Linked DNA regions of Homo sapiens: regions 1 and 3 are each linked to region 2. The links come from fine-mapping of genetic effects on gene expression. A gene starts in region 2. Each other region holds a variant in brackets. All regions are shown on one strand. Distances are from middle to middle.

Region 1 (2,766 bases), 43 kb before region 2:
TTAGCTCCATGATTATGCATGCTCACACTGGCTTAACACAGAATTATAAAATATTATTTTTTGGATGTATATAGTTGGAACCTTTAGGGAAAATGTAAAAAAAAAATCAGCAAAATTTTGACAGATTCTAGCAATATGTGTGTGCGTTTTTTAAAAACAATTTCTGTATTTTCAATTAAGCCATATAATGAGTTTCATAGTTGTGTCTTGGATAGTCAAGTTAAAGGGACATGCTCCAAAAGATAAGTTTTTAAAAGTTTATTACCTGTAAGACGTGATAATTCCTCCAGATTTGGGGCTGCAGATGAACCCAGGGCAATGGAGTGAATTGTTGAACCACTGCTGAGCACAGTGGGTAAGCAATTGCCAAGAAGCTTATCATCTCCGCTGGTCACTAATATCATCACAGAGCCATAAGCTTTTCCATTCAGTTTTTCAACCACCTGAACATAGAGAATTAGTCACTTGGAAGGAAGTGTAGTTCAAATTGTTTTATTGAGCAAAAGAATTCACTCTCATCCAAATTCCCACTGTAGCTCCTACACCCCACGCCCATCTCCACTCAAGTTTTACCTCACCCCATCACAGCACTTGTCACCCTACATTCCACTGCCAGTTTGCTTGTGAGCAGGGACTTTTCCTGCTTGAATCATCAAGGTGTCCCCATAGTTTAGAACTGTATCCATCATAGAAGATGTGGAATACATTATTGTGTGAGAGGCTTGCCTCTGAGATCCAGTAAGTGACCACCTAGAGCAGTGGTTCTCAGTCTTGGCTACACGTTAGAATCAAATGTGGAGACTTAAACAATTTTAATGGTCAGGTCACATCCCAGATCAATTAAATCAGAATCTCTGGGGGTTAGACTCACACATTAGTATTTTTTTTAATCCCCAGGTGATTTCAATAGATAGCCAAGGTTTAGACCATGGGCAGCAAAAACCATAGCTGATGTGTCTTGTTTGCTATCAGATAAGCATCCCAGATGCTGAATGCAAACTTGTGTTGATTTAAATAAACTCTGTCATTCCTGAAACACACTTCTGGCCTTAATTGTGATGTGTTGCCTTAATTGGTTCTGATGTGCGTGAAGTCTAGAATGACTATAGACAGAAGCTAGACATGCTGATTTTGACAAGAAAATTGAAAGGTAAAAATGGCCCAGAATGGCTAGGAACAGTTTAGAAAATGCCCAGATGTTGTTTAGGTCCTCTAGTCTC[G/A]TCCATTGTATTCATTTATTTTCTTATTCTGTCAACAAGTATTTATTAAGCAACTATTGTATGCTATGTACTTTGCTAGGCACAAGGAGTACAATGGTGAATAAGGCATGGTTCCTGACTTGAAAGATAATCCATCATTACTTTCATAGTTGAGGCTGTTATGACCACCCTGTAACAAACTGCCCATCATCAGAGGAAACCTCGTATACTAAAAGAGGGAAAGGAAAATGATGGTGATCCAAGGCTTAGGATGCTCTACTGTACCTCAAATCCTTTCTTAAGCCCTGAACAAATGCTGATGTCTGTTTTAGCTGATACAGTGGTGGGCAGATATGAAACCAGCAACTTTCGATCATCATTGCTGTTAATTTGGTGTAGCTGGGCTCTGATCTCTCCTTTGCTGTCGAAACTGGCAATGCCCACGAAGGTATGAATTTCAACAATCTGCATCAAATAAAATTCTGCGGCTTGTTGTAGTTGAAGGAGTCTGTCAGCCTATGTCCCAAAAAGGAAAAAAGAAAATGGCAACATTTGGTTAGTAGACAAAAGTATGATGAAGTAACTCAATTAGCAAACATCTCTGCTAATTCTTTAGAGATGTTGGATCATAATTTTTTGAGCTTTAAAGAGTAACATAATATTAGAATATTGTTTGATTAATTGCAGGCTCAAAAATGCATGCTTTCAGGGAAGAGGGAGTGGCTTGGGGCTCTGCCTCCAACAAGATGCTCATAATTTACCACTCTCTGTTTCTCATCATCCCCACTATTTCACTCCAACTTAGAATTCAAAGATTCATGAACCCAGCTGAGACGAAATTTGTAACTGCTGTTTTAAAAATGCAGTCCAGGTAAAAGAAAACATTGCAAAGAGACCTTTGCTAGAGAGGAGTGGCAGTCAGAGGACCCATGATCTGCCCCGGCACTACCCTCTGCTATTGTGGTCACCTTAGGCTGGGTACTTCATCTGTAGAGTGAGGATGATAGCTTTCTTGTTTATGAAATTAGAATTGCCATGAGGATCAAGTGAGATACATATATGGCAGTACAGTTATACCATGAAGGGCTAACCAGGTGTAAAGTAATATTAGTGACCAGTTTTGGGCAGGTGATGCTATTGATTAATTCACTAGGGTAACTTGTTTTGAAAGCTCTGGGAAAAGAGAGGAGCAGCAAGCTGAGCTTCAATGACCACCCACTCAGGGATGACACTGATCTCTATCTCCAACTCAAGCATCTTCCTGGGTGGATCTAGACCTGCATTTCACACTTCTTAGGACACAGGTTTCTGGCTTAACTAGTTGGGAGTGATGATTTGACAACCATGAAGATGGCAACTCTACACTTTGAATTCTAATACTGTTTCTCTTACAATATTGGGAAGTAAGTTGTAAAGGGGGTAAAACAAGGACTTAGAACTCTGCCTTCAACTTTTGCTAATTATGTGATCATAGTAAAATTACTTTTTTTTTTTAGCTTCAGTTTTCTCATCTGCAAAATGGATACTGAGTAAGCACTCACAATAGAATAGCTATTGCCATCTTCAT
Region 2 (2,766 bases):
ATAGAAATCACAATTTCTACCCAACACTGTAGTGTTGCATCCTGCACACAAACGTACTTTAGTGAGCTCATATGTTTATGTTTATGTATCATCTATGGCTTTTCTTGGTAAGACAATGGCAGAGTTAAATAGTATCACAGAGACCATATGACCTGCAAAACCTATTAATAAAATATTATCTGGCTGTATGAGCACATTTTCATACTGCTATAAAGAATTGCCTGAGACTGGGTAATTTATAAAGGAAAGGGGTTTAATTGACTCACAGTTCAGCGTCGCTGGGGAGGCCTCAGGAAACTTACAATCATGACGGAAGGTGAAGGGGAAGCAGGACACCTTCTTCGTTAAGGAGAAGTGCCCAGTGGAGGGGAAAGAGCCCCTTACAAAACCATCAGATAGCTTGAGAACTCACTAGCATGGGGGTAAACGGCCCCCATGATTCCATTACCTTCATCTGGTCTCTCTCTTGACACGTGGGGATTATGGAACTGCCCCCATGATTCAATTACCTTCACCTGGTTTCTCTCTTGACACGTGGGGATTATGGGGATTACAATTCAAGATGGGATGTGGTCGGGGACTCAGAGCCTAACCATATCACTGGCCCTTTACTAAAAAATTTACTAATTCTGTCTCCCGCTTTAAATTATGAAAGGGACAATTACAGTACTGGTGGAAAAACATTGCTGGAGTGCTTTAGTGAAACCAATTATTTAGGTAGCAGCATGCCACGGTTATGGCTTAGTTGACAGTTACTCTACTTGTGAACTTCATAGGTTGGTGTACGATTCTTAACATGAATATTAAGTAGAGGCATTGAATGAAGATATTTTTCCAATTAAAATCTTGCTTTGCTTCTTCAGGACTTTATAAACCAGACCAGCTGGCTGTGGCACAGATACGAAAGACTTTGAGACCCTGAAGGCACCTTGCAGAACATCCTCAGGCTTCCTCATTTAACAGGAAAAAACCTGAGGCCCAGGGAGGCATCTCAGCTAAAAATACTACTATACATTTAAAAGGAGGTTTCTTCCGGTCGCAGTTGCCTTCACGTTTTCAAATCTTCTCTTTAAAAAGCAAAAGCAGGGCACAACCAGGCCAAGCGCCAGAAAACTCGGAATTGGCTTTATTTCCTTTTTTTCTAGTTGGGCTCGGTTATGATTTTCGGTAACGTACACAAATGCTGTCCTTGTCCATAAACAAACGCTTAAAAAAAAATGTTTACCCGAGAAACAAGGATAGACACGAAGCTGCCCTCCCTGCCCCGTTCCTCACCCTCTCCAATAGCTATAGGCGCTGCCCGCCGTCCCTAACCCGGACCAATCGGCAGCCTGCTGCGGGCCTGACGGGAGGGGTGGGGCCGCCGTTGCCAGAGAAGCCACTAGCCGGTTACTAGCTGCGCTTTTGTTCCACTTGAGCGGGCACTCTTCTGCGGCAAGCAGGTCTAGGAATTCGCCTGGTTCCCACCTCGCGTCCCTTGCCTTCCTTCCTAGTCTACCCACTGTAGTGCCCCCTGCGTCCCGCTCCCTCCTAGCCGACTCAGAGCACAAGAAGGATTGCCACGGTTTCCATTGCAGCAGCCGTGGCGCCTCTGACCCTTTTTTTATATCGCGGCGACGGCGGGCTGTCGTCACGACGACGTGCGGACGCAGCGGCGGGGGCGTAAGTACGCCTTTTGGGTTGGGGGCGACTTTGTGGGGAGCCTAGCTGCTGCTGGGCGTTTACCGCGGGAGCCCTTAGCGGTCTGGAGGTGAGGGCAGTGGTGGGTCCCGGAAGTAAAAGGCCCTCGCGCCCACCCAGCCCCCTCCGCGCAAACCCTCCACCTCCCTCAGGCTGACTACCTGGCCTGGGAAAAGGGCGGCGAGACTCACTCTTAGGAAGGGTGTGGTCCCCGGGACATCAGGGCAAATGTTAGCGTGAGGTGGGCTTGTGCAGAACGAAGTCCTGACCGGGCCGTTCCTGGATATGGTTGCATTTCTTTCAGAAATAGTGACCTCTTAATCATTGGGCTGGTTTTTAATCGCCCATCATGTGATATATCAGATTGTAGGAAGCCCTGGGGGCTTCGTAAGTGAGGTATATTACAGGAATCCTCAGGAAATAATTCCTTCTCCAGGATTCCTCTAGGTTCCAGCCCCTATAGGCGACCCCTGTAGTGCGGGATTGACCTAGGGTCGTGGAGAGTGCTAAAGGCCGACTTGTGTTCAGTCCCAGCTCTGCCACTGAACCCGCTGTGTGGCCTTGTCTAGGTCACTGAACCTTCCTGGATTCCTTACTGATAACTGTAACAGTAATCATCACTTTGGGGTGGTTGTAATACGAGATTAAGTAAACGCAGGGCCATTAAGGTGGCACCGAATGTAGGTGGTTAGTGAGTGGTGGTGCTTGTTGTTTACTGAGAATAACCATACTGGGGCTGCTGTTGGGGATAAAATCTATTTCGAAGACAGTTTCCTCATCACGCAACGCATAGTACGGTTTCAAGTGTTTTTGAATGAATGAGGTTCTTGGAGTTTTAAGTGCAACTGAGTTAAGGTTAAAGAAACAAACCGGGCCGGGCGCGGTGGCTCACGCCTGTAATCCCAGCACTTTGGGAGGCCGAGGCGGGCGGATCACGAGGTTAGGAGATCGAGACCATCCTGGCCAACACGGTGAAACCCCGTCTCTACTAAAACAAATACAAAAAGTTATCCGGGCGTGGTGGCGGGCGCCCGTAGTCCCAGCTACTCGGGAGGCTGAGGCAGGAGAATGGCGTGAACCCAGGAG
Region 3 (2,766 bases), 50 kb before region 2:
GTGAAAAAAAAATCAACCCTAATTTTAAAGCATACATCAAAACTTCTGGAGAATTTTGCTCTTGTTTTGTTGATGTTGCACTTTTTAAAATACTACAAAAAGATGCCAGGAAAAGTAGCATTGGTTAAGGGATGAATAAATTTGTATTTACATGGCTTTCATAGCATAAGTCACCTTTATTTCTAGATAATTCTTTAGGGAATTACACCTCGAATTTATTTGGAGTGAGGGAGGATACATCTTGATTCCCATTTTTAGAACATAACAATAATAGTGTCCAGCTTCAAAGTACTTTACAGATATTAATCTGAGCCCCTTCCCCAAAAAGGCGTTTAAATGTTTTTCATTTCTTTTCATAACTGAGAAAATTACATCAAATTAATTGGACCATTATAATTTATGTGGACACCGTGGACTAAAAAGGCAACAACATCCTTCTTTCACTCCACTTCCCAAAAACTCCACACTCAGAAATCTCAATCAACAAAAAACACATACACTACTAGGGACCAAGAAAAGGACCTACTATTTTTAATAGGTCAGGATTATACAATATCTAATTTGGGTAATTTATAGAAATACTGCTAAACACTACTCTTGCCTATCTGCCTGGGAAAAACCTACAAAAGAAAATCTGAAAGAAAAAGACTAAAATTACAATATAGCAGAAATTCGTCCTTTTGATTAAGCTATACATATATTGCTTTTCCCTGACTTCTGCTGCTGCTCCTTATCAAACCCCCAGAAGTAACAAGTGAAACACAACAAAGCAGAAGGAAGAACAGAAAAGCAAGGGGTTGAAGCGTAACTCAGGGTGGAGAGTTCAGATGCACCACACCCTAGCCATCTTTCTTCATTGGGATTCATGAGCTTCACTATTTTCCATTAAGTTATGATTCAAGGACTATGTTTTTTTGTTTTTGTTTTTTGAATCATAACATTAGTGACAGATGCATGGCAGGAACTTCCACATCAAAAAGTTCTCTGAGTGTAATAAATGTTTTGATACAGGGCATCTAATCCAGACCAAGAGGTCAGGCAAGGGGAGCAAGAAGTAGGTAAAGTGTCCCTGGCCCTTATACACAGGTGTGAAAAGAACATGATGAATTTGGAGAAAAGTTCAATAGGAGCAGAGCATCGAAGAAGTTAAGAGAGAAGCTTGGGTAGAAGCCAAAACATGAAGGGTCTGGTATGTAAGATTTACCACTTGGGCCTGGTGACAGAGCGAGACTCCATCAAAAAAAAAAAAAAAAAAAAAA[AG/G]TTCCCACAGCTCACCACTACAGAAGCAGAGAAGACAACTATGCAGAAAACAGAGTTGGTGGCAGTCAGGAGGAATGCAGCTGGTCTGTTGGACCCCTACTGGATTGGGGGAGTGCAGAAGACACTGGTGAAATCCTCTATACTGAAGACCTGCAGTTGGGAGCAGGGGGAGTCCATGGGTCTGCTGATTTTTTTTCCCTATTTAGTACTAATGTGTGTGTGATCTTTGTTTTACAAAATACCTTTTGGGTTTTCTGCATATTTTAAAATTTTTGTACAGTTTTGAATTCTATAGATCGTCTTGGAAGGATACTGTGTGATGAGCCAGGCACACAGTAATTGGAGACTTTTAATGTGTGTAATATTTCATAGATTGCATGCTATTAATCGTCTGTGAGGGTAGTATTTTTTGTTTTATTATAAGTTTCCCTCATTTTTTTATAAATTAAAAGATGGTTGGTATTAGGAATTTCAAATGAATGCAGAAAATCTTACATGCTCTGTACTATTAATATTATAACAAAGACGATCCAAGTCCAAAATCTGACCAATAAAGCAACCATTTTATCAAGATAGAGGATTCTACCATGGGAGAGGGGATTCTTCCCTCCTGAAGTTTGTGTGTCCAATCCCCTTAAAAAAAATGAATAGTTGTCTTTTCTTGTCATATTAATACTCGAAAGTCCATGGTGATATTAATGAAAGTACACTTTATTGTTGCCTTTGACCTTATGGCCAAGGCAATAAATCAGAAACAAAAATAGTGCCAATGTGTCAAAATCTACAACTGAGAGATTCAGCCTCCCATCTGGAATAAATGCGAATCTTCTAAGCTAAAAAAAAAAAAAAAAAAAAAAAAAGGTTAACACTTGGATTTTATTCTGAAACCACCAAGGAGGTTTTGAACAAAAGACAGACTGATTTGTGCTTCAGAAGGATCGCTTTTATAGAGGTAAAGAATGGACTGGAGGGATGGCAGTTCAGAGTCAAGAAGGCTAGTTAAGGGGCTGTCAAGAAGGTGGTGGGAGCGGTGGCTCATGCCTGCAATCCCAGCACTTCAGGAGGCAGAGGCAGGCAGATCACTTGAGGTCAGGAGTTTGAGAACAGCCTGGCCAACATGGTGAAACCTCATCTCTACCAAAAAATACAAAAATTAGCCAGGCATGGTGGCAAGTGCCTGTAGTCCCAGCTACTCGGGAGGCTGAGGCAGGAGAATCGCTTGAACCTGGGAGGTGAAGGTTGCAGTGAGCTGAGATGGTGCCACTGCACTCCCGCCTGGGTGACAGAGCGAGACTCCATCTCAACAACAACAACAACAACAACAACAACAACAACAAAAGTGGGGGTGGGGCAGCATGTGAGGAGGCACTGAATTCAGGCAGTGCAAGAGTGAATCTGATCAACTTACAGTTCTCCTTAGAACCATCAGTGGTTCCCTTTCACTTTCAGGATTCAAGCCCCTGTTCACTTTACTGTTGTGCAAAGCCCTTGCTAATACAGCTCCTG

Alleles and levels. Alleles are on the strand shown, and positions count from the first base shown. SD is a standard deviation of normalised expression in the study named.
With allele G in place of A in region 1, the expression in monocytes after LPS of the gene that starts at base 1,372 in region 2 is higher (small effect, 0.37 SD a copy in Fairfax 2014).
For the expression in CD4 T cells of the gene that starts at base 1,372 in region 2, AG is the high allele of the variant in region 3 and G is the other (moderate effect, 0.60 SD a copy in Kasela 2017).

The links. PIP is the estimated chance that this variant, and not a neighbour inherited with it, causes the effect.
Region 1: its variant is fine-mapped to the expression of ODF2L in monocytes after LPS (Fairfax 2014, PIP 0.95).
Region 3: its variant is fine-mapped to the expression of ODF2L in CD4 T cells (Kasela 2017, PIP 0.95).

Annotation. Positions count from the first base shown.
Region 1 is chr1:86,437,825-86,440,590 of GRCh38, reverse strand. CLCA2 (chloride channel accessory 2) reads right to left here. Exons shown (of 14, transcript NM_006536.7): 7 at 1,485-1,715; 8 at 266-443. Among named protein-coding and RNA genes, the nearest start is that of CLCA2, 15 kb to the right of the region's middle. The variant G/A (reference allele first, on the strand shown) is at 1,221.
Region 2 is chr1:86,394,929-86,397,694 of GRCh38, reverse strand. ODF2L (outer dense fiber of sperm tails 2 like) reads left to right here and starts at 1,372. Exons shown (of 17, transcript NM_001366781.1): 1 at 1,372-1,662. RefSeq lists an enhancer at 1,398-1,447.
Region 3 is chr1:86,444,711-86,447,476 of GRCh38, reverse strand. All of the region lies in intron 10 of CLCA2 (chloride channel accessory 2), which reads right to left. Among named protein-coding and RNA genes, the nearest start is that of CLCA2, 22 kb to the right of the region's middle. The variant AG/G (reference allele first, on the strand shown) is at 1,260.